7 linked regions of the Homo sapiens genome follow. The protein of the gene in region 1 purifies or fractionates together with the protein of each later gene. This does not show direct contact. Each region holds a gene or a part of one and is shown on either strand. Other genes may lie near its edges.

Region 1 (3,500 bases):
CACTCTTAGCAGGTGGCCATGGCCCTAATCCCCAGAGAAAATAGGAGCCAGTGGTCGGGAGCCCCATCTTCCCTCCATCAGTTCTGCTCCCTCCCCATGACACCTATCTCTTTTCCCTCCTGTGAACAGGAAAGTCGCTTCCCTCCTCAGAGCCTCTCCTTCCTGCATGCCTGAATCCCATCCCCTCCCACTTTCTCGAGAAGTGCTACGGAATGTCCCTTCTCTGTCAGGTCCTCCCTCTGTCCCTCATCCCTCTTCATCTCGCTCCTGTCCTTCCCTGCCAGGCTCCTTAGAAATCAGCCCTGTGCAGTGCCAGCATTTCCTTAACTCAACTTAGTCTGGGTTCCATTGCTACACTCCACCGAAACAACTCTGCCAAGGTTGCCAAGGACCTCCTGTGCCGTTCAATCTGGCTGACATTTCCCAGTCCCTGCCTTCTCAAAAGCATCATGATCATCCCATAGCATGTTTGAACCCCCTTTTCCCTTCACTCCCATTGGGTGGCCCTGTGCTTTTTCACTTCCTGCCTCGATGGCAGTTTTCCCCTTTCTCATCCTCTTCTCCAGGCTTGGAAACATTCCCGTTCTTGAAGACTGCTTCTCCGCCTTCCTCCCCATCACACCGGCCCCTCTCCAGGTTACCTCATCCACTCCTCTGGGGAGCTAATGTCTGATGCACAGATACACACATTTTTATCTCTTGCCCCTGCTGCCCCTGGGAACTTCAGACCCACCTGTCCACGGCCTACCTGACATTGACACTTAGATGTCCCAAGAGCGCATGAAGTTTAACAAGCTCAAAACTGAACTCTTCTCTTAAGATGCATTGTGCCAGTCGTTGGACCCACCAGCTTCCCCCGCATGCATGCAGCATTCCCTCCATCTTTCCCTACATTTCTAGTCTGTCATCATCAAGCCCCATAGATTTCAGCACTTCAGCATGCCGGAGTCTCTCTGCTTCTTTCGTTTCTGCTGCCGCCTCCGCCCTCTGCTGAGCTGCTCTCCTCTGTCTGGTGCAATTCTACAGCAGCCGCTTCCCGGTGCTCCTGGGCCTGTTGTTCATCCCTTTCATGCCACGCACCTTGTCTATTTCTGCACTGTTTTCCCATTAACAGTGTCCCCTCCTCTCTAGGACTCGCCTTCTTCCTGGAAGCCCTGTCCACCTGCCCTCTCCTTTCTCCACGAGCCATTGCTGCCCAGGGAAGCCTCACATGCCTCCCCCATCTGGCCTGGGCCTTTTCCATACTTGCTCGTAGCCCATTGTGCTTCTCCCTCCTGACTCTGTCATTGTTAGAGTTCAACACTTGGGGCAGTTCTTCAGTTAATGTGTCTGCCCCTCTGGACCATAAGCCCCAAGAGGACAAAGACTGGTGTCCGAGCTGTGCCCAGCACAGAGTGGACTCTTAAAGGTTGTGCTGACGCGAGGATGGGTGGGGAAGGAAAATCAATAAGGAAAATTCTCAGTTTACTCATTCCATGTTGGCTGAAGTTTTCATATTTTCTCCACAAAACATGTTCCAGAGCAGGTACCATAAAGCAAAAGGATGCAGAAAGTTTCTGGTTTCCTGTTTCCTGTCTGAGAAGACTCTCTTAAGTGATACTGATTTAAGCAGCCTGAGGAGGCATCAAAGCTTTGGAGGATCTGCTGAACACATCACGCGCATTTAAATAATCAGTGTCTGATCCCACCTCCACGTTGGGTTTCGCTTTCTCTTGTTCCACAAGATATCGAAGTGCTGATTGAGTTGGCATCCAGCTTCATTCGCATTGTGTTTATTATCACAAGACTTGGATTTCCATTATGATTTTCTTTTTCTGTTATTTTTCAAACTTTGATATTCCACTGATAGCATAAGGATACATAAACTTTAATTTTTCATAGATATACTCTGGGAATGACTTAGTATCATAAGATGCTTGAGTAAAGTGAACTGGAGAAGCTATATGACGTTAGATTCCTGTTTTTGTTCAGTGGGTTTGAGAAGCTAGCTGTCAGCTGTCACTATCATTCCTCTGTTGTGTTTGCCTTTTCTCTCTGGCCACCATTCCTTTCTTCTCTTTGCATTTGGCCTTCTTTAGTTTAACTACAGCGTATCTAGGTATGCTTTGAGTATTCTTACTTATATATTGCTTTGAGTATTCTGCTTTTTTTTGTTTTTTTTTTGTTGTTGTTGTTTGTTTTTTGTTTAACAGACATGGATCCACTCTGTCACCCAGGCTGGAGTGCAGTGGTACAATCACAGCTCACTGCAGCCTTGAAATCCTGGATACAAGTGATCTTCCTTCATCAGCCTCCTAAGTAGCTGGGACTACAGGTGCACACCACCACGCCCAGCTAACTTTTGTTATTTTTTTATTTGTTAGAGACGAATTCTGTTGCCTAGGCTGGTCTCAAAGTCCTGGGCTCAAGCAGTCCTCCTGCCTCAGCCTCCCAAATTGCTGGGATTACATATATGAGCTGCTGTGCCCAACTGTATCTACAGATTTATAACGTGCATTAATTGTGGAAAATTCTGAATCATTATTTTTTCAAATATAATCATCTTTTGTTCATCTTCTATTTCTGTATAATTTCTCACAGCTTAAAAAATTCTATATCTGATCATCTTAGTAACTAAAGTCTTGAAAATATTAATTAGTCGTTGCTGTCTCTGTGAGCTCATGTTTGATTGATCTTCATCTGTGGGAAGCCTGGAGGCCTGGCAGGGGTTGCTCTCCTCCGGAGATCATTTACATTTACTTCCACCAGGTGTTGGGGCCACTTTCAAAGGCTTCCTTCAAGGATCTCAGGTTAACGTTGAAGCCTTTGTTGAGCTCCCAGCTTTCGTTTGGCCCAAGTAAGTGTTGAAACTGGCATTTGTCCTCGGAGTCCCTCCTTTCAGGCTTGCTTAATGGTCCCCACACTCCCTGTGGATTAAACTCACTTTGGGGGAAGAAAGGTGTCTTGGAGATTGCCTCTACTGTCTGTGAACCCAGCAATGTGATTAAAAAAAACAAATAGCTCTATCAAGCAGCTCATTCTTTTGTTGTTTGCTTGTTTTGTTTTTGTAACTGAGAATCCTTCAGCGTACCTGCCTTCTATCCTACTGGAAGCATAAATCTTTGACATGGTTTTTATTGCTAGCAACAAGGAAAGTCAACATGCAAAAATAGTTAACGAAGAGAAAGTTCAGGTTTTTCAAAATTGTGTCCAAAGCTGTCCCTTTCATTCACTGGAACTTGATCTTACCCTTTGTCCTTTGGAAACACATCTTTGCTTTTGTTCTTGACTCATGTCCAACCCACCTCCTTCTCTTGTAGTCCTGGGACCACGTGTCTTCTTCCTTCCCTGAATGGAGGTTCTTCTTTTGGTAAATTCATGCCCCACCCCAATCTTTATTTTTAAACTTAGTTCCTGTAAGGGAAGTAAAGAGCACACAGATGAGTTCAATATATAAATCACGTCCATTAATCCAACAAATATTTACGTGAAAAATTTAAAAGCTTTCTTTCTCAGATAAC
Region 2 (3,229 bases), on another chromosome or scaffold:
ATTCCCTGAAGCTCCTGCTACCCTTTGCTAATCCTTTTAGACTCTGTAAAACTTACCAATGACATTAACGTGCTTTGCATCTGATTTCTTATGGTACATTCTGATTCTTCTTATGGTATTTTTTTTTAGAAGGTAGAGGAGAAAAATACCCAAATACAGCATCAGGTCCACTTCATCTCGGATGTTAAACAGTTGTTGCTACATACTCTTTATACAGAGACCAGCTATGAAAGACGGCACTTTCCTCTCGGATTTGCAAGTGCCTGTAGCCTCAGAGGCCACATAACTTTTCATATTCTTCCCAACAGGTTTCTATGTTCACCCGTTATTTGACTAAACCAGAAAAAAAGGCGAGGGAGAGAGATTTTTCCCACTGAACTCTTAATACCTTCAGATGCCCAGAACACCTCATGGTGGGTATCTATCTGAAATGCCTCTGTCTCAAAGGAGACATTTTGCAAAGAGTTATTAATTATTGCAACAAGGAGAACAACTAGGTCACCTTAGTAGTATTTATAAACACAAAGGGACATGTCAATTATCTGTGCTGTGGGAAGTCAACAGGAGCAAACTCAAGAAAGAAGGCAGAAGACTTAAAATAAAAGAAAATATAATTTTAATACTTCTGTCTTCTATTTTTAAGGACAAGTTTTTAAATGCACATGCCCTACTAGGTGCCAATAAGGACCTGACTGATATGTGTGCGAATGCCCTAAGATGGGAGTGCCAATGGGGTGGGCAGATAGTGGTCAAGTCTAGATATTAATTTCATTATACAGAAAAATAAATACAAGATTCAAAAACTGAAACCCATTTTGCCTGGCAATTAAAATATTATTCTAAAAGGAAGGCAGAGTTTCCTAAGATTAAAAGTCACCAAGTAAAATAAAGTTGTCTAATAAAATTCATCATTCTATATTCCTACTGAGGGAAAGAAGAAATTCTTTTCTCTGTGATGTTATTTTCCTAAGTGACTTCTTTTAATTAAAAAAAGGGGGGAAGAGGAGGGAATTTTCCATGAGTTTGAATCCTACAAATGCCACAAACAGCTTCTGAAGCTGAAGCTATGACAATGAACTTCCATGTCACAAAGAGGATGAGGAAGTGGAAGGGAACAGTGCAGAGGAAACACAGTGACATTGTATTACAGTAGGTATTTACGCCTGCTATCCTCATCCAAGGTAAGGTCAACAACTTCTGCTGGTGAAGCCCAAGTCTGCTGGGGAGTCACAGCAGTCCATGACTGTGTTTGCCTGGTGCTAACATACTGCGTGCCCGAGCCATGCTTCCATGAAGAAACACTCTGAATCACACCACCTCGAGGATGAACACACCTGCAATTGAGATGAAGAACAAAAGCATGGTTAATTCCACCACAGGAAAAACAGAAGACAATATGACCTCAGTTGTACTTATCAACATTTTTACTAAGATAAACCTAGTATGCAAGTTCATAAAACCCACAATCAATATCCTTCCCTCCATCTCTGTCTCCCTCTCTCCCTACCCCACCACACCCCACTTGGTCCCTCTCTCAGTTTAGCCTTAAAAAGGCCAAGGGTCTTATCTCAGCCAGAAACTCCTGAGTTGTGTCACTGACCATGGGTGACAGGATGTTTCTCTGGACTCATTTACACCTCTGGGATCTTCATGATAGGGCAACACATAAATCCAGAACAAAGTTAAGATGCCCAAACAATCTTAGTCTGAACAAATCAAACAGTAAGAAAAATAGTTAAAACTTGTTCTTAAAATAAGCTTTATAATTGGTAATAATGCCTTCAAAGACAGTGACAGTAATACCCTTTCACAGATTAAATTTCTAAAAGTCTGTAAGTAATAGATCATGAATAAAGGATCAATTTCCCTTGTCCTGAAGGTCACAACAGAAGCACTTGGTTCATTCAACAGAATCGCTTATAATTTGGTTCCGTGAAAGTAACACAGCTGAATCTTCAGTTTAGATCCACTAAAAGGGTTCTATCGGAGGGAGAGAACTGCCTTGTTAGCAAGTCACACCAAGAGTTCACTGAAATAAAATTGTTTCAGAAACACTGACAGTTTGAATTCCACAGTCCAGTCAAATGATAGAATTGTGAACCTCCAGGCCAAAACACTAAGTTCTGACTCAAATGAGAGGAAGGCAGGCAACTCATGTGATCAATGCTATGTCCTCTCATCTAAACTTCCTGACCAGCCCTCAGGTAGCTTATGTGAGAAGTAACAAGTGGCATGAGTCTAGTCACTAAACTACCACAGTGGCTCCTGAGCAGCTGTTTGACAATCTGTAAGCAACAAATAATGCTGGGCCACTTGAGAATTTCAGCTTTGGTTTAATGCTACCTACACCACCAGATTCAAAAGAACATTAGGGTAACAATGGACACGATTCAGTTGCAAAACTGCCCCAAGGACCCTTAAACTCCTGCAAACATGCCCTACTCCTACAAAGGCTTAATCTGATAACTTCTCCCTTACTAAGAAAAATTCCTAAGAACAGATCTCTCAGGGCCAGAGCAGAGGGCAGAACGCAAATTTGCTACAGTACCAGAAGCCCGTCATCTGTCCAGAGATGGGCTATGTAGTTACTAACCCAGAGGCTACTACCTTTTCAAAGATTAGCTAGAGAAATAAATAGGGACATTAAAATAAGGGACATAAAGCCCAATGTCTAATTCACATCTGTTCAACCCATTATATAAATTCATATTAAGTGACCATGTAGTCATGGAAAAATGTCAGCCAAAGGAGTCCATTCAACATTTATAGAAATGGTTTTGATGACTGAAGGCCAACGGAACACTACCTTTACTAAGCAGTTTCACATATATTATCTCATTGGACAATTCTGACAGACCTATGAGGTAAGCATGGAATTTACTATCCTCACTCTACAGAGAGGGAAACTGAGGCTTAAACAGGTTACATGATTTGCTCAGAGTCACAATGCTTGAAAGTGATAGGCCAAGGAAGACAGGTCTGATTTTGGGTCCAATGCTTTCCATATCATGTTGTTGCTTTACAGATGTGTGTATTAAATCGGGTGCAGCAAAACACAACAAGAATCATCAGAGTACAAAAATAGACCCAAACTAACAATTTAGAAGTATAAAGTTACTTGACAATTCAAAAGCTCACCTGTATAAGCACTAATTGAAGTAAAGCTGGCTAGAAACCTGGTAAGAATTCAGGCAACGAGTGGCAAAGAGAGTCAATGTAATCTTTGGCA
Region 3 (3,500 bases), on another chromosome or scaffold:
TTCAAGCAATTCTCCTGCCTCAGCCTCCTGAATAGCTGGGATTACAGATGTGCACAACCACACCCGGCTAATTTTTGAATTGCGTTTTTATAAAATAAAAATTTGTTGTCATTATTAAGAAAACAAGGGCCAGGCGCGGTGGCTCACGCCTGTAATCCCAGCACTTTGGGAGGCAAAGGTGGGTGGATCATGAGGTCAGGAGTTCAAGACCAGCCTGGCCAACACAGTGAAACCCCGTCTCTACTAGAAATACAAAAATTAGCCAGGTGTGGTGGCGCATGCCTGTAATCCCAGCTACTTGGGAGGCTGCGGCGGGAGAATCACTTGAACCCAGGAGGAGGAGGTGCAGTGAGCCGAGATTGTGCCACTGCACTCCAGCCTGAGTGACACAGTGAGACTCTGTCTCAAAAAAAAAAGTAAAGGAAACAAGAGCTATCCTCTAAAAATCCAGACCCTCAACTTCTCCTGAGAACTAGAAAGACTGGGTGACACTAGACCTGCTGCTGAGCGGTCAACGCCCCGACTGGAGGGAACATGTGCTTGCCAGGTCAGCAGGATCTCTACCTGGCCCCTCTACTTTACCTGCCAGACCCTGAAGGCAGCTGACATGGCGATCAGTGCTACAATAACGCAGGTAATGATGCTGACGATATTAACGGCACTTAGCCAGCACCAGCCCTGTCCTAAGCACCTTACATGGGTTTACCTGTTACACCTCTAACAGCTCAGAGAAGCGGATGCTATTACCGCGATTTTACAGAATTAGAGGCCCAGGGACTCTACACTCAGGCAGGTGCCCTGCAGTCTATGCTCCTACCAACCCAGCGTCGCTGCCCTTCCCAGGGCAGCCCTGACCCCAACAGGCAAGGGGACCGGAAGGGGGTGGACCAGTCCCCAGGTGACTTTATTTTCTAAACCATCCCTAGAGCTAGCCTCTCACCATGTCGTCTCCAAAATGAAATGTCTTTTTTTTTTTTTTTTCTTGAGACGCAGTCTCACTCTGTAGCCCAAGCTGGGGTGCAGTGGCACAATCTCGGCTCACTGCAACCTCCGCCTGCGGGGCTGAAACGATTCTCGTGCCTCAGCCTCCTGCATAGCTGGGACTACATGCGCGTGCCACCACGCCCAGCTAATTTTTTTTTTTTTTTTTTTTTTTGAGACGGAATCTCACTCTGTCACCAGGCTAGAGTGCGGTGGCACGATTTCAGCTCATTGCAACCTCTGCTTCCCGGTTTCAAGCGATTCTCCTGCCTCAGCCTCTCAAGTAGCTGGGACTACAGGCGTGTGCCACCACACCCAGCTAATTTTTTTTTCAGTAGAGACGGGGTTTCACCATGTTGCCCAGGGTGGTCTCGAACTCCTGAGCTCAGGAGATCCGCCTGCCTCGGCCTCCCAAAGTGCTGGGATTACAGGTGTGAGCCACCACGCCAGGCCAAAGAGCTGTCTTGATTTTTTCCACCCGCTTCGCTTCCCCATCCGCTCCTGGCCACACAGGAACGCGCCCCTCCCCCTCCGCAAGGGGTTTCCCAGCCCTCAAGGCCCGGACCCGTCCCTTCAAGCTACAGAAAACCCTGGAGCGTCCATGCGCTTTCTACTCCCCTCCACCTGGAACCCCTGACAGCAAAAACAGTCTCCTGAGGAGAGAGAGATGCACAGTCTCCTCTCCACACCCTGTCGTGGAAAACAGCGGCTGGGATCCACCTCCACTGCCACCAGAACGCGCACGCAAACACCCATGCCTTGCCCTTTCCAACCAAGGGCTTCCTGCGGAAGAGCAGTGGCCTGTGCCTGTCCCCTTAGATGGGGTGTTCTCTGAGCTGGACGGCCAGGTTTCCTCCCTCTGAGCACCTTCTCCCCAGGATCGGAGACCGCGCCCCCCCAGCCCCTCCCACCTCCACGCCCAGCCACACACACCTGCTTCTGCGCCGGGGCCCGTAACCACCACGCCGGGCGGGCGAGCGGGAGTACCGGTGTCCGTCTCGGGAGCCCCCACCTGAGTGCCGCCGGCCACGGCTACGGGACCGGGAATAGCGCCGGGAGCGGGAGCGGGAGCGGGACCAGGAGCGGGACCGGGAGCGGGCGTGGCGGCCGGAACGGTAGTAGCCCCCACCACGGCGAGAGCGGGAGCTGGAGCGAGAGCTGGAGCGGGAGCTGGAGGTCCTCGAGGCAGAAGAGGAGGAGGAGGAGGAGGAGGAGCGGCGGCTGCAGGCGGGGCACGGAGGGCCGGTCAGCGCAGGCCTGAGCCGCGGCCCCCCTCTGCCCCGGGTACCCCCCATGGTGACCGGGGCGTAGGGCGGGCGGCGTGAGCGTTACCGACCGGGCGCTGGCATTACGTCCCGGGGCGGGGCCGCCAGGCTGGGGAGGTGCGGGGGGCTTCCCTGTGGTGACTCCTGATGCTGCTGCGGCAGCAGCGGCTGCGGCTGCCTCCTCATCGCTGCCCCCAAAACTGGTGATGAACGTGATCTTCTCCTCGCGGCCCGGGGTCGGGGAGCGGGAGCGGGAGCGGGACTCTGAGCTGGACTCCGAGGGTGACCTGCGGGTAGGGAGGAGGAGGCTCACTAGCTCAGGCTCCCGGAGCCTCTTCGGGAACAGCACACACAGCAGATCAACAGCAGCGCCAGCGCGGGCCACAGCGACCCGGGAAACCAGGCGGGTGGATGGAGCCTGGAGGGCAGTGGAGACCCAGCTCTGGACAAGGACTTGACTCACAACCATGCAGCCTTCGCTAAATAACCAGGAAGGACAATGACACACAACTGCTCTGATTTTATGTGGCTATGAAAAATGGATGAGCAGGCCGGGCGCGGTGGCTCACACCTGTAATCCCAGCACTGTGGGAGGCCGAGGCAGGCCGATCACTTGAGACCAGGAGTTTGAGACCAGCCTGGCCAACAAGGCAAAACCCTGTCTCTACAAAAAATACAAAAAAAATTTGCCGAGCATGGTGGCGCGCACCTGTAATTCCAGCTACTCAGGAGGCTGAGGGCACGAGAACTGCTTGAACCTGGGAGGCAGAGGTTGCAGTGAGTCCAGGTCACGCCACTGCACACCAGCTTGGGCAACAGAGTGAGACTCCGTCTCAAAAAAAAAAAAAAAAAAAAAAAAAAAGATAAGCAGATCTCTGTACAAAACACAGAAAAGTTTTACTCAAAAGATACATGGATAATCTGGGAGGAAAAAGCAAGTTCTAAAACACTGAGTGTGGTGCAATTCTATTTTAGTAAAATAAAAACAAAGTGGCCAGGTGTGATGGCTCATGCCTGTAATCCCAGCACTTTGGAAGGCCCAGGTGGGAGGACTGCTTGAGGCCAGAACTTCAAAACCAGCCTGGTCAACATGGTGAGCCCCATCTCAATATTTTAAAGAAAAAAAAAACAAACGTGTTTTTTAATATATAAAATTTTAAAAATAAAAAGAAAGTATCTGATATTCCTGACACTCCCATGTATGGAGCACTAACCTACACCTTTTATTTCCCCAGAAGCCATTCAACACCTTAT
Region 4 (3,500 bases), on another chromosome or scaffold:
GAAACATTCCCACCCACTGGGCCCTCATCTGGCACCAGATCAGCCACAGCTCCCTAAAAATAGCTCCGTATGGAGAGTCTGCTTGACAGCTGCAGACCCCAGGGCCACCTGAGGGTAGAGAAGCCCCTGCCGCTACACCCCATTCTCCGATCCCACCCCAGAGACCTCCTTCAGCCTGACCAGCCCAGCTTCACACAGCACAGCAGCCCTCCATCGAAGGTCAACACTTCGGGACTGTTCCACAGGCCCCCACAGCATCTGCCACCACCGCCAGGCCCCCACTTAGGCTCTCGGCCCCCCAACAGTGGGCATCCCCCAGAGCTCCCTGTCACCCACCAGCCCTGGACCCAGCCGGGGGTGTGGAGGACTCAAACCTGCTGTCTGTGTGGGGTTCAAGAAGCCTCAGCCCCACAAGGCTAGAGGACACCCCCTGCGCCCACAGCCCCAAACTCTTCCCTATCCCAGCTGCTTCAGAGACAGACAAGTCCCCAGTACAGGTCCCAGAAGATGGGGTTTGGCAGCTCCCTGTTAGAACACCAGCCCCACAGCCAGCAGGACCTAGAGGGGCAGCAGCTAGACGGGAAGGATGGAGACTTGGTCCAGGACGACCACCGAAGGATGCCCAGATGGCTTCCTGAGCACCTGGACCCCAGCAGCTCTCAGAGGAGAGTGGGACGGTGGTCACACCCAGGCCTGCTCCCTGTCTCCAAATCTCCCTGTACAAAGGCCATAGGATGGGTGCTGAGCACAGCCTAAGCTCCCCTGGGCCAGGAGGAGGGCTTTCAGGGCAGGGAGAGCCAAGAGGCCTATGTCTCCCCACCAGACCCCTCCTCTCCGTGGGGCCCCAGAACTACCACATCCAGGGCCCTGTTTCCAGGCCCAGTCCACACCGGTGGGGTAAAGGTCCCTGCCTGTGGCTCACCCCTGGAGAGCCAAACCAGGAAGCCCGGTGGGGACCACAGTGGGACACTCAGGGTGTGGCTCCCGCAGCAGGACGGCTCCGCAGGCCTCCCAGGGCTTGTGGAGGATGGAGCAGGTGCAGCAGGAAAGACGAAAGCCTGCCTGCCTTCTCCTCCACACAAACCGCAGGTCCCCAGGGCCCATCCTCTGTCTGGACGGGCCTCTACACCGCCACCCACCTGGCGGAAGCAGCAGAGCCAGATGGGCAAGGCGGGGGTCATGCTCAACACAGAGCCCCTCATGGACCCCCCACCCCGGCCCCCAAGAAGCTGCAGCCCCACATCCAGCATGCCTGGTCCTCCTGGGAACAGATGAGCAACTCTGGCAGCCCAATGGCACACACTCCACGGGTCCCCTACAGGCGGGGAGACCATCTGCCCTCCAGGGTTACAGGGGCAGAGCCAAGGAAGTCGGCAGTGGGCAGGCTGCTGCTAAGTGGGAGATGGTGGGGCGGTGAGGGGCCGATTCTGACTCACAAAACCTCAGCTTCCTGCTCCCCTCCCCCTCCCACCGACACCCTGCAGAGGACAGGCGGCAGACGGGTGGGGGCCCAGGTGTCTGCGGGTGCCACACCTACCTCCACACCCCCAAGGACAGCTCACTCAGGCGCAGGCCCTGAGCTGCGGCTCCTCCCCCACCCCGCCCACTCCCCCAAAGGCCTCCTTGTGTTTGGCCCCAAACCACCATCTGGGCCCAGCCCTGGCTGGCACCCAGGGCTCACCCAGTTCTTGCCACGAGGCAGCAGGTGGAGGAAGGAAGAGGGGTTTATGAACAGGGACAGCAGTCTCTGCACTGCAGCCTCCCCAAGGCCAGGAAGGGAAGGCAGCCTTCCCCAGGAGGATGGGCAGAGTGGCAGGTCACCATCTACCTTGACCCTCTCCACCCCCCGCTAGTCTTGTGAAGCATCAACTCTCACTCAGCCTTAAGTCCTCTGCAGGGCTCTACCCTCCAAAGAGCCAGCCCTGAGCTCCACTCTCCTTGGGCTGGCCCAATGGCCCAAGTGGGCCAGGCCAAGCAGGCACCTCTCCCTGAGCTCCTCTGTGCCATGACAGCCCCAGACTGGCCCTTCAGGTCTCAGCCCACAGAGCACCCCCTCCCCTGGGAAACTCTGCCCCAGCCTGGGGCCTACAGGGACCCTAGGACCGACCTCCCTCCACCACACCCCAGTGACTGCTAGTGCACCTGTTGGCTTGGCTGGGACGGACCACAGGCTAATTAGGGCTTGTAGAACACGTACAGTCGGCTACACAACCATCCTCCCCACACCCAACAAGCAAACAGGTTCCTCAGTCGGAAGTACAGGGCACCTTCCGGAGCCCCAGGGAATGACAGAACACAGCTGGCCCCTGGAAAGGCAGGCCATGGAGGGCCCTGCAGCCCTCAGCTGTGAGCAGCTCTCCTCCTCACCCTTCTGAGGTCCCAGCCTGCACCTCAGCTCTGTGCTGTCCGGGGCCAGGCCACATCTTGGCCTCCAGGGGGATGTGGGGGGTTTTGCCACATCTTCCCAGGGTCCCCCACCCACTGAAGCTCTATTGCCATAGGAGTGACCTCCAGCAGCTGAGCTCCTTGCCCATCAGAGTGCTGCCTTTACCTCAGAATACACAGGAGGGAGGGTGCCCTCCCCACTCCTCCCCTTGGCAACAGGACGAATCCAAACGGTGTGCTGGGTGGCACTGGGCACCAAGGTTTCCTTGCCACCTCCACCTCTGAACATGGGGCTGAGGGGGCCACCTAAGGACAACACTGGGGCTTCTGTCCTGAAAGCCCCTCAAAGAGCACTCCCTCCTGCACCAATGTCCCTGCGGCCAGCCCCACGCAGACGGCAGGCCTGAAAGGCGGGCGGGCGGGCAGGCGAACACAGACCTCGCGTTCTGTCATCTGCTGGCAGCACCCCATCATCAGTGCCAGGCTCTGACGCCTGGAGGGCTGGCCCAGGCCAGCGTGTGCTGTGGGGAGGCAAAGAAGGATGGCAGCCTCTCCTGTTTCCCCACCACACTCCCCACAGTGCACGAAGACCAGCCCTGGCCGGCTCTGCTGCTTGTGGGGAACCCAGCTATAGGAAAAGAGAAAAGAAGGAAGGACAGCACCTTCCTGCTACGCCACCCACCCAACCCCAACGTGCACATGGCTCCCTCGGCCGCAGCAGCAGGCCATGCGCAGGGCCCCTGCAGCTTCCACAGCCATCCCCCCCAACCTCCCCTGCCCATCAGACCTGAGCAGTTCTGACCCAAGGCCTTGGACCCCTTCCGGCTCCCAGGGTGGAGGCTGGGAGGCAGTTGAGGCCATCCCAAACAGCCCCAACCCGCTCCAGAGGGAGGGCAGGAACGTGGGTGGGGACAGTAGATGGGGCTCAAGAATGCAGCCAGCACATCACAGTCAGGAGGAGAGGCGAGGCCATAGGGTGAAAGGTCTTTTTCTCAGATCCAAGGGGTCCAGCCCCTCCTCCCAGGCAGATGCACACTCAGCTGCTGGAGATGGAAGGCCGATGGCCAGGTCAGGGCCAGATCAAATGTGTCTCCTGTTCTCAAAGACACCTCAGC
Region 5 (3,500 bases), on another chromosome or scaffold:
TTAAGACCATGGTGAAACCCCGTCTCTACTAAAAATACAAAAAAAAAAATTAGTCGGGTGTGGGGGCGGGTGCCTGCAGTCCCAGCTACTTGGGATGCTGAGGCAGGAGAACGGCGTGAACCTGGAAGGCAGAGCTTGCAGTGAGCAGAGATCGCGCCACTGCACTCCAGCCTGGGCGACAGAGCGAGACTCCATCTCAAAAAACAACAACAACAAGAACAACAACAACAAAGTCAAATAACTGAGTTGCAATTTTAAAATTAGTATGTACAAGCAAAACAGCCTCTTTATCTACCTACTGTGAATTATATGCTATTTATTGAATTATAATGTTATTTTTGATACTGTAAAACTGCAGTGATAGGATTTCTGGATGATTACTCCTCTGGAAGAACTTGTAGTAAGTCATCAAAGAGATCTGGAGAAATGAACAGGGCTGTTCAGAAAGTTCTGGTCATCACTGTTTTGCAATAAAAGCAGAAACTGGAGGCGCCTCAGACATGAAACAAGAAATTAGTCAGCAATGCAAAATATAAAGAGATGAGGAATCTCTAGTTCCTTGGAAAGAGCTGATGTGATGCAGACAAACTTCTGAAAAAGGTGATATCTTCTATTATAAGAACATGGCCACAATGAATGTCTTAGGCCAGATGTTAGTAACACGTGTAGACAGTGAGCGCTTTAGCTAAGGGTGGAGCTGATACTGATAACAGGCTAATAAATACATTTCAGGATTCGAAAAACAAGTCAGGGTAAATATTAGATTTCCAAGAGTCCAAAGCCAGAAGGCTTCACAGAAAGGAAAAGGCAGTTGCTAGACAATGCAGGATATATTAAAGTGCAGAATGTTTAAGGGTTATAGAGGAAATAGTTCTTCATCCTAGAAAACAAATTCCTGGGTAGGATTTGTGGGACCAAAGTAAGGAAGCCAGAGATCGAAGAAAAGCCTGTGGCTAAAAGGTAACCTTAGGTGTGAATAAGAAGCAGGAATGAAGAGAATACAGACCTGGAAACAATGCCAAACCTAAATCTGACTCATGTTAGACCTGTAAGTAAGTTACCTAGCATTTCTCTAGAATTTCCGCATCCAGGTTTTAATATGGAGAAAACGGAATGAGGGGCATACTCTATAAGCCAAAGGCTGGCTAAAATCACCTTTGTTAAAGAATCAATATTCTGAATATGCATTTAAAAATGTATTTTCTTAGTTTGAGCTCTTTTTGAAAAAATTAAGGACGGTAAGAATTTCTGTACACACAGTCATGATATAGAAGGAAATTCAGACAATTTATGACTATGGTAGGTGGATAATGAGTCCTAACACCTTAGAAATATCTGAAGAAAGTGATGGAGACATAAGAGGGAAAGTCAGACAGGATTTTATAAACCAATTATTTCTTTGAGACATGGTTTCACTCTGTTGTCTGCCACCTTGACTGCTAGGGCCCAAGCAATCTTCCCACCTCAGCCTCCCGAGTAGCTGGGACTACAGGCATGTGCCATCACAGTCAGCTAATGTTTTCTATTTTTTTGTACAGATAGGACTCACTATGTTGCTCAGGCCAATCTCCTGGGAGATCCTCCCACCTCAGCCTCCCATAGTGCTAGGATTACAGGTGTGAGACACCACACCTGGACAAACCAATTCTTCCTTCCTATTTGGAATTTTGCCAATAGCATATAAACAGGAGGATGCTGGAATATAAACCAAAGATCTTGATAAATTATAACACTGAAAAACTCTTCCTTCAGTTAGTCATTCATAAAATGAATTGGTCAACAGAACCACTCAGGGACTTTTTAAAAAATGTAGAGCCCCAGGACTCCCATTCCTTGAGATTCTTTGGGTAGGGGCCAGGAATCCATATTCTTAAACATAGTAATATTAAAACAAATAAAAAATCTCCCTCAGGTGCCAGTAGCGTTTAGAAAAATGTTAGTAGGAAACTTAATCAAAAATTGTTATTCAAGAGAGAACCCCAAAACATTCAAAGCCAACAAATAAGCTGCCATTGCAATGGCATACTGGCATATGGCAGACTGAGATTCTATACCTGGAAGAATCTGATTTCTGGACAAACACTAGGGTTAATGCTGATTCAACTAAGCACTGATAGAATTCCAAATGGCCACTCCATTCAGGACCTTAACTAAATTTTGTACAACATCTATAATGGGATTCTTATCTAAGCCAAGATCAGAGGTAGAAAAGTTTATGGCATAAAGGACACTGAAGAGCATTTACGGCAATTATGAGCAGTACTCTACAATTTACCACATTCATATTTTCCAATTTATTTTTCACCTTTTTTTTTTTTTAACGTCTGGGGTTTTTTTTTTCCTCCATCAATCATTAGCCATGGGCAGGGTCTTACTGATGACATAAAGCACTGAAAAGATTGGCTACCCTTACTCTAAATCTTTGCTTTTGAAATCTATTTCAGAAATCATTTCTCATTTTCATTTCGAATTATATTAAGAACTGACAGCCTCTCTTTTTAAAGAGAGGTCCTTATCAAATCATGGTCCTATTAAGAATTTTCAATGGTTCCCCCATTACCTATAGAACTAAAAAAAAAACCCTCATACTTACTGGCCTGGCATTTAAAGCCCTCTGTGTATCACCCTCATCTACCTTTTAAATTGTTTTGCTGACTATTCTTGAATGTGAAATACTCTACTCTGGCTAGATTAGTCTACTACCTCTCCTTTAAAAATACCATTTTCATTCCTATCTCTCTGACTTTGTTCCTTCCTAAAAATATCTTCTTGTATCCTCTCTGCCAAACCATTTCTAAGGCTCAGCTCAAATCCTGTATCTCCTTATGAGGCTTTCTCTAATCACTGTAGTCCTCAGAGCTCTTCCACTCTTTTGGTTCCCTATGTCTGTATCATTGTCACATACTATCTTCTGTTGTTCGATTTATGTGTAATTGTTCTCTCTTCCTAACAGACTTTATGCTGTGCTAACTCCCAATATACTCTCACAGAGATATGTATGCAGTAGGAATTCAATAAATTTTTTTTTGTTTTATGTGAGAAGAAATACCGACAATTTTAGAAGAGCTTTCTCTTTCCTCTCGGCTTTAAAATCAAGGGGGAAAGGGCGCAGGGAGCAAAGTGGATCAGCTGAGGGTCTACTACTCTCGTATTTCAGGAGAAAAGAGGTCCCTAAGGAACTTAATAATTCCAAAGTATTGGCCAGTATTTTCTTACTAAAAGATTTCTAGAAATGTCTTTCTGGGTCTAAGACTAGGATCAAGAAAAACAGGGACTGAGTAAAACAGGACCTTAAAACTAGACTCAAAGGCTCTCTATTTTCTCTAGCCTTTTGGAAAATTTCTTTCCCACCATTAAATGTCTCCTAAAAAATCTATTTCCATGAAGAGTCTATCGCTGCTCAGCCTTTTAACTAAAATCAAGTGTAGTCCATGAAGGAATTCTGTATTAATCAGAAGAGCTGGAAACCTCCATACATCCTAAAAACACTGATTATGGTG
Region 6 (3,500 bases), on another chromosome or scaffold:
GAGACAGAATGCATATGTGAACTAGAGAAATATACTCTGCTCCAAGATATCTGTGGTTTGCAGACATTGCTAAGTGATTCCTATGTCAAAATTTTAATATAGTCTCATAACAGCACTTTATCTGGCTGAAACTGACTGCCTTTTTCTTCAAATACATGTTTGCTTAGCTATATATTTTGCTACATAAATTAGATATTAATTTGCAAAGCACTTGAGATCTAATTAATTATAGTAAATTTATTTCTGCTTTATCTCAACAACAGCTCCAAACAATACCCTATAGAGACCTTGGAAGAAGAATTAGAAAACAAATAGAAGAAAAGCTATTGTTTCATGAATAGTCCCTGTTTGCCTCATACCTGCACATTTCAGAGTGAAGACCTGCACATTCAAGCTCTGGTAAATTACTTCTACTGCCACCTCTTGCAAATGTACCTCAGAGAGGCCACACATTTTGAGGAAGCAAACATTCTGGACTGCTATGCAGATAGGCCCATCATGTGAAAAACTGGCTAGATACTAATGCCTGCCATTGGTTAAAAGCAGCAGGTATATTTCACAAACTTTGAATTCCTTTGCTTCTTGGTGGAGCTTCATGTATCTAGACTTTTCACTATGAAAGTTCTGAAACATACACAGAGGTAAAATGGAAAATCCAATGAACCCAGGTGGAGCTTTAGATTTTTTTTCTTTTTTAAAGACAGAATCTTGCTCTGTCACCCAGGCTGGAGTACAATGGCACAGTCTAGGCTCACTGCAACCTCTGCTTCCTGGTTCAGGCGATTCTCTTGCCTCAGCCTCCCGAGTAGCTGGGACTACAGGCGCGTGCCACCACACCAGGCTAATTTTTGTATTTTTAGTAGAGATGGGGTTTCACCATGTTGGCCAGGCTGGTCTCGATCTCCTGACCTTGTGATCCGCCTGCCTCGGGCTACCAAAGTGCTGGGATTACAGGCGTGAGCCACCACGGCCAGTCGCAAACTTATCTTCATTTAAATGAAACTCATATCCCATCAGCACGTAAACTGTTTTAAGGATGGGAAAATAGGATTCTAAATCGCAAAGGATGAGCAAACTGGTGCTACTGCCACCCGAGGTTGGTGAGCACTACTTCAGCCCACAGCTGTCTCTTTTTAGGCCTAAGAAAAAGTATTAGGAACTAAGTAATTTAAGAAGGACTTTTAATGACTGAAGCCCAACAGATTTAAGTTCTTTTGTCTCCAGGTTAAACTACCCATCCTCTTACCTTTAATTTTCTGCTTGTATTCTTCTGGTCGGTGGAGGTACATGGCTGCAGCGTCACCATTGAGAGGATCTATGGGGTTAGGATAGGCCAATAACTGAGGCAGGAAGGACTCAAATATATTGGTAAGATCTGAAAAACCAAACAAACATGTCACACATGGGAAATGCAAGTTCACCTAAAATTCACTTGCATTCAGTAGTCAAGCTGCTTACCTTCTTAGATATTCACACGGGGATGATTCTCCATACGAGTGTGCTCTATTACATGTGACTTGTATTACACATTCATTTCAATACCAATTTAAACATTTTAATTTTAATTTGAAGAACGAGATAAAGATATACCTGACATTCACTTTGAAGGACAATTTTCCCAATTCTATTTCACTCTATTTATATGGCTATTTCACACAGCCATTTTCTACAGCTTACAAAACCCCCCACTCTGAAAGGTATTCAGATGCTGGGTCTTAAAAGAATTGAAGACAGTTTTTGTGGGGTTTTTTTGTTTGTTTTTTTTTTTGAGACAGAGTCTTGCTCTATTGCCCAGGCTGGAGTGCAGTGGTGCAATCCTGACTCACTGAAACCTCTGCCTCCATGTTCAAGCGATTCTCCTGCCTCAGCCTCCCAAGTAGCTGGCACTACAGGCACCTGCCACCATGCCTGGCTAATTTTTGTATTTTTAGTAGAGACGGGGTTTCACCATGTTGGTCAGGATGGTCTCAAACTCCTAACCTCAAGTGACCTGCCAGCCTTGGCCTTCCAAAGTGCTGGGATTACAGGTGTGAACCACTGCGCTCAGCCTTGAACACAATTTTATAGGACTTGACATTTAATTCAATTCTTGCAACTTCTAATGGAGGTAAATATAACCAATTTTTCAATTATTCTGGGTAATGAGGATAGGAATCTATATGGACCACATAAGACTACAAATATTCATAAGACAGATAAGCACCAATCTACTGCATTTATTTATTTAAAAAAGTTTTTTTTTTGAGAGAGGATCTCACTCTGTTGCCCAAGTTGGAGTGCATAGGTGTGATCATACCTCACTGCAACTTCAAACTCTTGGGCTCAAGCCAACCTCCCAGCCTCAGTCTTCCAAGTAAATTGGACTATAGGCATGTGCCACCATACCCAGCTAATTTTTTTTTTTTTAAATAGAGACAGGGTCTCCTTATGCTGCCCAGGCTGGTCTTGAACTCCTGGACTCAAGAGATCCTTCCATCTTGGCCTCCCCAAGTGCTGGGATTATAGACGTGACATTTATTAACTCCTTTCTTGCCAGGCATACACAGATGATATCTACACACAGTTAGCAAACAACAAACACCTGCAGTTACCCAGCGTTTTAGAAAAGCAGGCCCTGAGAACCTGGGTATAACACAACCCACACACCCCATAGCTCAGATATGCTGTAACTTCCACACTCTGCTCCTCAGTGAACTGCAGCACCCCTGAGAAATGGAAGGACATGAGAATGCTTCCATGTCTCTGCCCCACTCCAGCTGCTTTGTCATGTTTTATATAAAACATTCCTGTTTCTGGAGACAATGCTGAAGTATACTAAGTAGCATAAAAAACTACTCATTAATTTAGTCAGCTCTTTCAACCAATTTTGCTTTTAACAATGGGCGCTCCTTTGCAGTATTACAGATGAATGCTTTGCCAAGCCACATTGCTTGAGATTTGTGGTTCTCAGCCAAGGGTGATTTTGCTCCCCATGGAATTTGGCAATGTCTAGAGACATTTTTGGTTGTCATATCTAAGCGGTGCTACTGGCATCCGGTGGGTGAAGGCCAGGGAAGCTGCTAAACACCACAATGCACAGGACAGCCCCACAACAAAGGATTATCTAGACCAAAATGTCAGCAGTGCTGAGGTTAAGAAACCCTGATCTAGATAAAAGCGGTAGGCAAACCTTTTTGTAAAGGGTCAAATACTTTTAGGCTTTGCAGGCCACATATGGTCTCTGTCATAACTACTCAAAACTCAGCTCTGCCACTGTAACACAAAAGCAGCCAAAGTATAGGTCAACAAATCGATGTGGCTGTATTCCTATAAAACTACATATACAAAAACAAGTACCCAAGGTCTGCCCAACTTTGCTCTAGAAAATCTTACCTATAAGAGGTGGCTCTTATCACTGTAAGGTTAAGAAGCTGAGCAGTTAGAGACTAATCTAGAGCTGTGTTACTCAACCGAACTTTCTGCAGTGATAAAAATGTTTTATATGTGCTCACCTAAACCAA
Region 7 (3,500 bases), on another chromosome or scaffold:
CAGCTTGACAAGGCCTGTTAAGGATAAAAATTAAAATTAAACATGAATATTATCCTCAGGAAGCTGACAGATTGAGAAAAATACATCATGTTTAGAAATAGCAATAATTCAAAGAAGAAATTGCTAAGAAAGACAAGTGTAATATTTATGAAGGGTAATCTCACTTCAGGGAGGGATACATCACTACCACCTTCAGGAATAAGAAAGCTCCATTTATTTTTAAAATTTTATTTTAATTGTTGTGGGTACATAGTAGGTGTGTATATTTGGTAAGCTTCATTTAAAAGCTGACTTGAGCTCTTAATGAATAAGCAGGGAAAGAATTCTGAGCAGGGAGAATACATGAAATATTAAAAAATATATACATTGGTCTCCATCCTTGGCTCCTGACATAGAGCACCTAAAACCCTTGCAGACAGGGGCACTAGCAGAATCTTTTGTTGCAACAGTCTTTTACCCTGGTTCCTGACACAGAGCTCCTAAGAACTTTGCAATTTCCTGATAGGGGAGCCTGACACAAAGCTCTCTACCATTAGAATTTCCTGGGTAATAGGAACATCTTTTGTTCGAATAAAGCAACTCTCCATATCATTGTTAAGTTCTAGTTATCTCACTACTTGTTTGGAACAGTAAATAAAATTAATTTGCTTTTGGGAATGCAAGGTTTTACAGAAGTATTTACTTATGTTTATGTACGACTAAGCTTGCCTAAAACACTTTATATAAGGAAAAGTCCCAGGTACTACACACAAAACTGAGATAATCAGAAACTTCAAAACTGTACTAAACAATTGTTTCTCCCTCTGTACAAGCTGCCACTAAGTTAGATCTTTACTGCGCAAACAGCTTTCAGGTGTGCTGCTTCTTTAGCCCTGTGACTACCCTAGCTCAGCAACTCATTTCTTACGTGACAATTTGGTCTACCTGCCTCTAATTTTACTTCTATTCTCCACATACTACCAGTGTGGGTTTTTAAAAACTCAAACCTGATCACATTACTGCTCTCTTGCTAAAAAAAATCCTTCAGGTGTTCCTTACAAAAAGATAAAAATCTAGCTCCTCCCTCCTGATACAGAAGGTTTTTTATTACTGTCTGCATACATCTCTAGCTGCAACTCCTAATTACCCCCCATCCATACCTTATAACCCAACCATATTTAATTATTTGTTGCTTTCCAAACATGCCTTTTTATATGCTATTCCCCACCCAGGAAGGCCTTTCCAGAGCTAGAAAATTCCTGCCTGTCCTTCAAGATTCAGATCAAATGTAACATCTTCCAGAAAGACTGGGTGAGAATCTTTCATCTTCCCCTCATCACCAAACAAAAATAAAGTGCTGCTTTTCAAGATCCTATGGCCCCTACTACCTTACCTTGTACAGATATGCCTACCTTACCAGACTGTCAACAAAGTGAGGAAGAAAAGAACTTCTGTCTTAAGATCTTTGAATTTCTGGCACACAGCACATTGCCTGGTATTTAGGATATGCTAAACAAAGGTTTGAGTAACTATGAGAACAATTTATGAAACAGAAACAAGAACTTATTGGTACAATGAAAATCTGGGACTGTGGAAATCAAAACCACCAGTCAACTTAAGAAAAACCAGTTTCCTTAAGAAAACTACTACTTACACACATAAGGGCACAAAGCATATCAACTGCTGCATGGATTATTCCGTTGTTGCTTCTTTTGAGTGCTTTTACTACCTTCACCCCTAGACGCTCGCGAAACCTTTTGGAACAAAAAACAAGCATATACTAGCAATACCAGAACATTTTAAATTGTTATATTATTGAAATAGATCATATTAACTTTCCATTGCACTACTGGAACAATGACGTATTTTAAATTCCACCTCTGAAATTTATCAGTCTTCATAATAGTTTTTTCTTTGAGAGGGAAAATATTTTTTAGGGTTAACTAAAACTAAAAGGCATGTAATTTCCCATTCAAATTCAAGAGTCAGTTATATTACTGGTGAGTATGGGACCAATATTCCGCTTCTGCTGCCCTCACCTTCCTTTTTCATTTCTCATGAATAAAGTACCATATCACCCTATAAAAGGTATCTGGTTTAGTCAAGGAAAAGGAGGTGAATCGTTCATTATTTGCCATTTTGAGTAGTTCAAATTCTCTAAGAGAAGTTAAGTTTCAGAAGACAACTTACTTTGGAAGCTGAGTGAAAGCCAGGAAACCAGCTTTGGATGCCACAAGCCTCCTCACAGCCTGGAACTGACTCTCAAGTTCCGCATTTGAAGCAACGACATCCCCTTCTTGGGACAGTAATGCTGTTATGGCATTATTGATCAGTTTTTCTTTGTTTTCTGAGAAGAGACCCTAGGTGAAGAAAGAGTATTTCAAAAAAGTTTCCATACCAAAAGTTAGTAACAATGAACAATTATGATAAAACTTAGCTTACATCTTGTGTTACTGCATGTAGGACTCCACTGTATGAAATATTAGCATTGAACCTGAATACAGCATCTGCAAAGTTGCCATCTGTAAAGAGATTAAGAGGTTCAAAAAGAAGATACGAATTCCTAATTCTTAAATTAAGTAGATGAGTGGAAATGTAATTACATTTAAATCAATACTTACTTGGAGGCGTAGCTAAGAACCTGAGGTGAAGGCTCTCTACTTCCTCATCAACAGGCATGCTGAGTAACCCCCATCGCTGACCTTTATGGGTTGGTGTCATTTTTACACAAACATCTCTATTACCAGAGGCTCTTACTCCATCCAGCAAACTTGCTAATAAGGAATCTCTAAGTAAGATTAAAAGTAAAAAAAGGTTTTAGCATTGATGATTAAGGGGAATTTTGATCTAGCATGAAGCATAGGCCCTTTAGCAGGTAATCTGCTCAGGGACACACTACAGTTACAATGGGAAACACAAACAGTGGGGCTTTAGGAAGAGCTCTAATACTAGCTCTTCACCGTGCTGCTACATGACCTTGTACAAGTTACTTAAACACTAATTTTAATTTCTCTTTCTCTCCCTTTAAAATTATTTTTAACAGCTTTACTCGGTTCTAATTGACAAATCACAAGTCATCCAATTAAAACGTACAGTTTGATAATTTTTAATAAATTTATACAACTGTATAATCATCATCAGTTCTGATATATTTTCATCACTCCAAAAAATTTCCTTGTGCCCATTTGCAAAAGAACACTCCCCAGCCCCAGGAAACCACTGATCTATCTCTATAGTTTTGCTTTTTAAAGAAACTTCATAAAAACAGAATTATAGAATATGTAGTCTTAGGTGTCTTGCTTATTTTACTTATCATACATAGGCTTTTGAGATTCATCCAAGTTGTTGCATGTATTAGGTCAGTCCTTTTTTATTGCTGAGTAGTATTCCATTGTATGAACAGGCAACATTTTGTCTGTTTATTCACTGGCTGATCTAGATATGGATTGCTTCTGTTTTTGGCTATGAGTAATGATATTACGAACATTCATGTGCAAGTCTCTCTGTGGGCATCTTTTCAT

What was found.
Region 2: the proteins of PIP4K2A (region 1) and ARK2N purify together in Homo sapiens (co-immunoprecipitation; 3 studies listed by BioGRID and IntAct, with this or other methods). This does not show direct contact.
Region 3: the proteins of PIP4K2A (region 1) and CLASRP purify together in Homo sapiens (co-immunoprecipitation; 3 studies listed by BioGRID and IntAct, with this or other methods). This does not show direct contact.
Region 4: the proteins of PIP4K2A (region 1) and SBF1 purify together in Homo sapiens (co-immunoprecipitation; 3 studies listed by BioGRID and IntAct, with this or other methods). This does not show direct contact.
Region 5: the proteins of PIP4K2A (region 1) and ACIN1 purify together in Homo sapiens (co-immunoprecipitation; 3 studies listed by BioGRID and IntAct, with this or other methods). This does not show direct contact.
Region 6: the proteins of PIP4K2A (region 1) and UBE2H purify together in Homo sapiens (affinity purification with mass spectrometry; 3 studies listed by BioGRID and IntAct, with this or other methods). This does not show direct contact.
Region 7: the proteins of PIP4K2A (region 1) and DNAJC13 purify together in Homo sapiens (co-immunoprecipitation; 3 studies listed by BioGRID and IntAct, with this or other methods). This does not show direct contact.

What each region holds. Positions count from the first base shown.
Region 1 is NC_000010.11:22,610,079-22,613,578, reverse strand, and holds part of PIP4K2A (phosphatidylinositol 5-phosphate 4-kinase type-2 alpha), read left to right. Parts: intron 1-3,500. UniProt on the Homo sapiens protein: Catalyzes the phosphorylation of phosphatidylinositol 5-phosphate (PtdIns5P) on the fourth hydroxyl of the myo-inositol ring, to form phosphatidylinositol 4,5-bisphosphate (PtdIns(4,5)P2). Has both ATP- and GTP-dependent kinase activities.
Region 2 is NC_000018.10:46,261,034-46,264,262, reverse strand, and holds part of ARK2N (protein ARK2N), read right to left. Parts: intron 1,335-3,229; coding exon 1,145-1,334; 3' UTR 1-1,144. UniProt on the Homo sapiens protein: AMPK substrate important for exercise capacity and skeletal muscle function.
Region 3 is NC_000019.10:45,063,045-45,066,544, reverse strand, and holds part of CLASRP (CLK4-associating serine/arginine rich protein), read right to left. Parts: intron 2,534-3,500; coding exon 2,318-2,533; intron 2,203-2,317; coding exon 1,915-2,202; intron 1-1,914. UniProt on the Homo sapiens protein: Probably functions as an alternative splicing regulator. May regulate the mRNA splicing of genes such as CLK1. May act by regulating members of the CLK kinase family.
Region 4 is NC_000022.11:50,468,536-50,472,035, forward strand, and holds part of SBF1 (myotubularin-related protein 5), read right to left. Parts: intron 1-3,500. UniProt on the Homo sapiens protein: Acts as an adapter for the phosphatase MTMR2 to regulate MTMR2 catalytic activity and subcellular location. Promotes the exchange of GDP to GTP, converting inactive GDP-bound Rab proteins into their active GTP-bound form.
Region 5 is NC_000014.9:23,085,137-23,088,636, forward strand, and holds part of ACIN1 (apoptotic chromatin condensation inducer in the nucleus), read right to left. Parts: intron 1-3,500.
Region 6 is NC_000007.14:129,837,961-129,841,460, forward strand, and holds part of UBE2H (ubiquitin-conjugating enzyme E2 H), read right to left. Parts: intron 1,376-3,500; coding exon 1,247-1,375; intron 1-1,246. UniProt on the Homo sapiens protein: Accepts ubiquitin from the E1 complex and catalyzes its covalent attachment to other proteins. E2 ubiquitin conjugating enzyme that transfers ubiquitin to MAEA, a core component of the CTLH E3 ubiquitin-protein ligase complex.
Region 7 is NC_000003.12:132,455,502-132,459,001, reverse strand, and holds part of DNAJC13 (dnaJ homolog subfamily C member 13), read right to left. Parts: intron 2,768-3,500; coding exon 2,601-2,767; intron 2,502-2,600; coding exon 2,422-2,501; intron 2,340-2,421; coding exon 2,170-2,339; intron 1,734-2,169; coding exon 1,634-1,733; intron 1-1,633.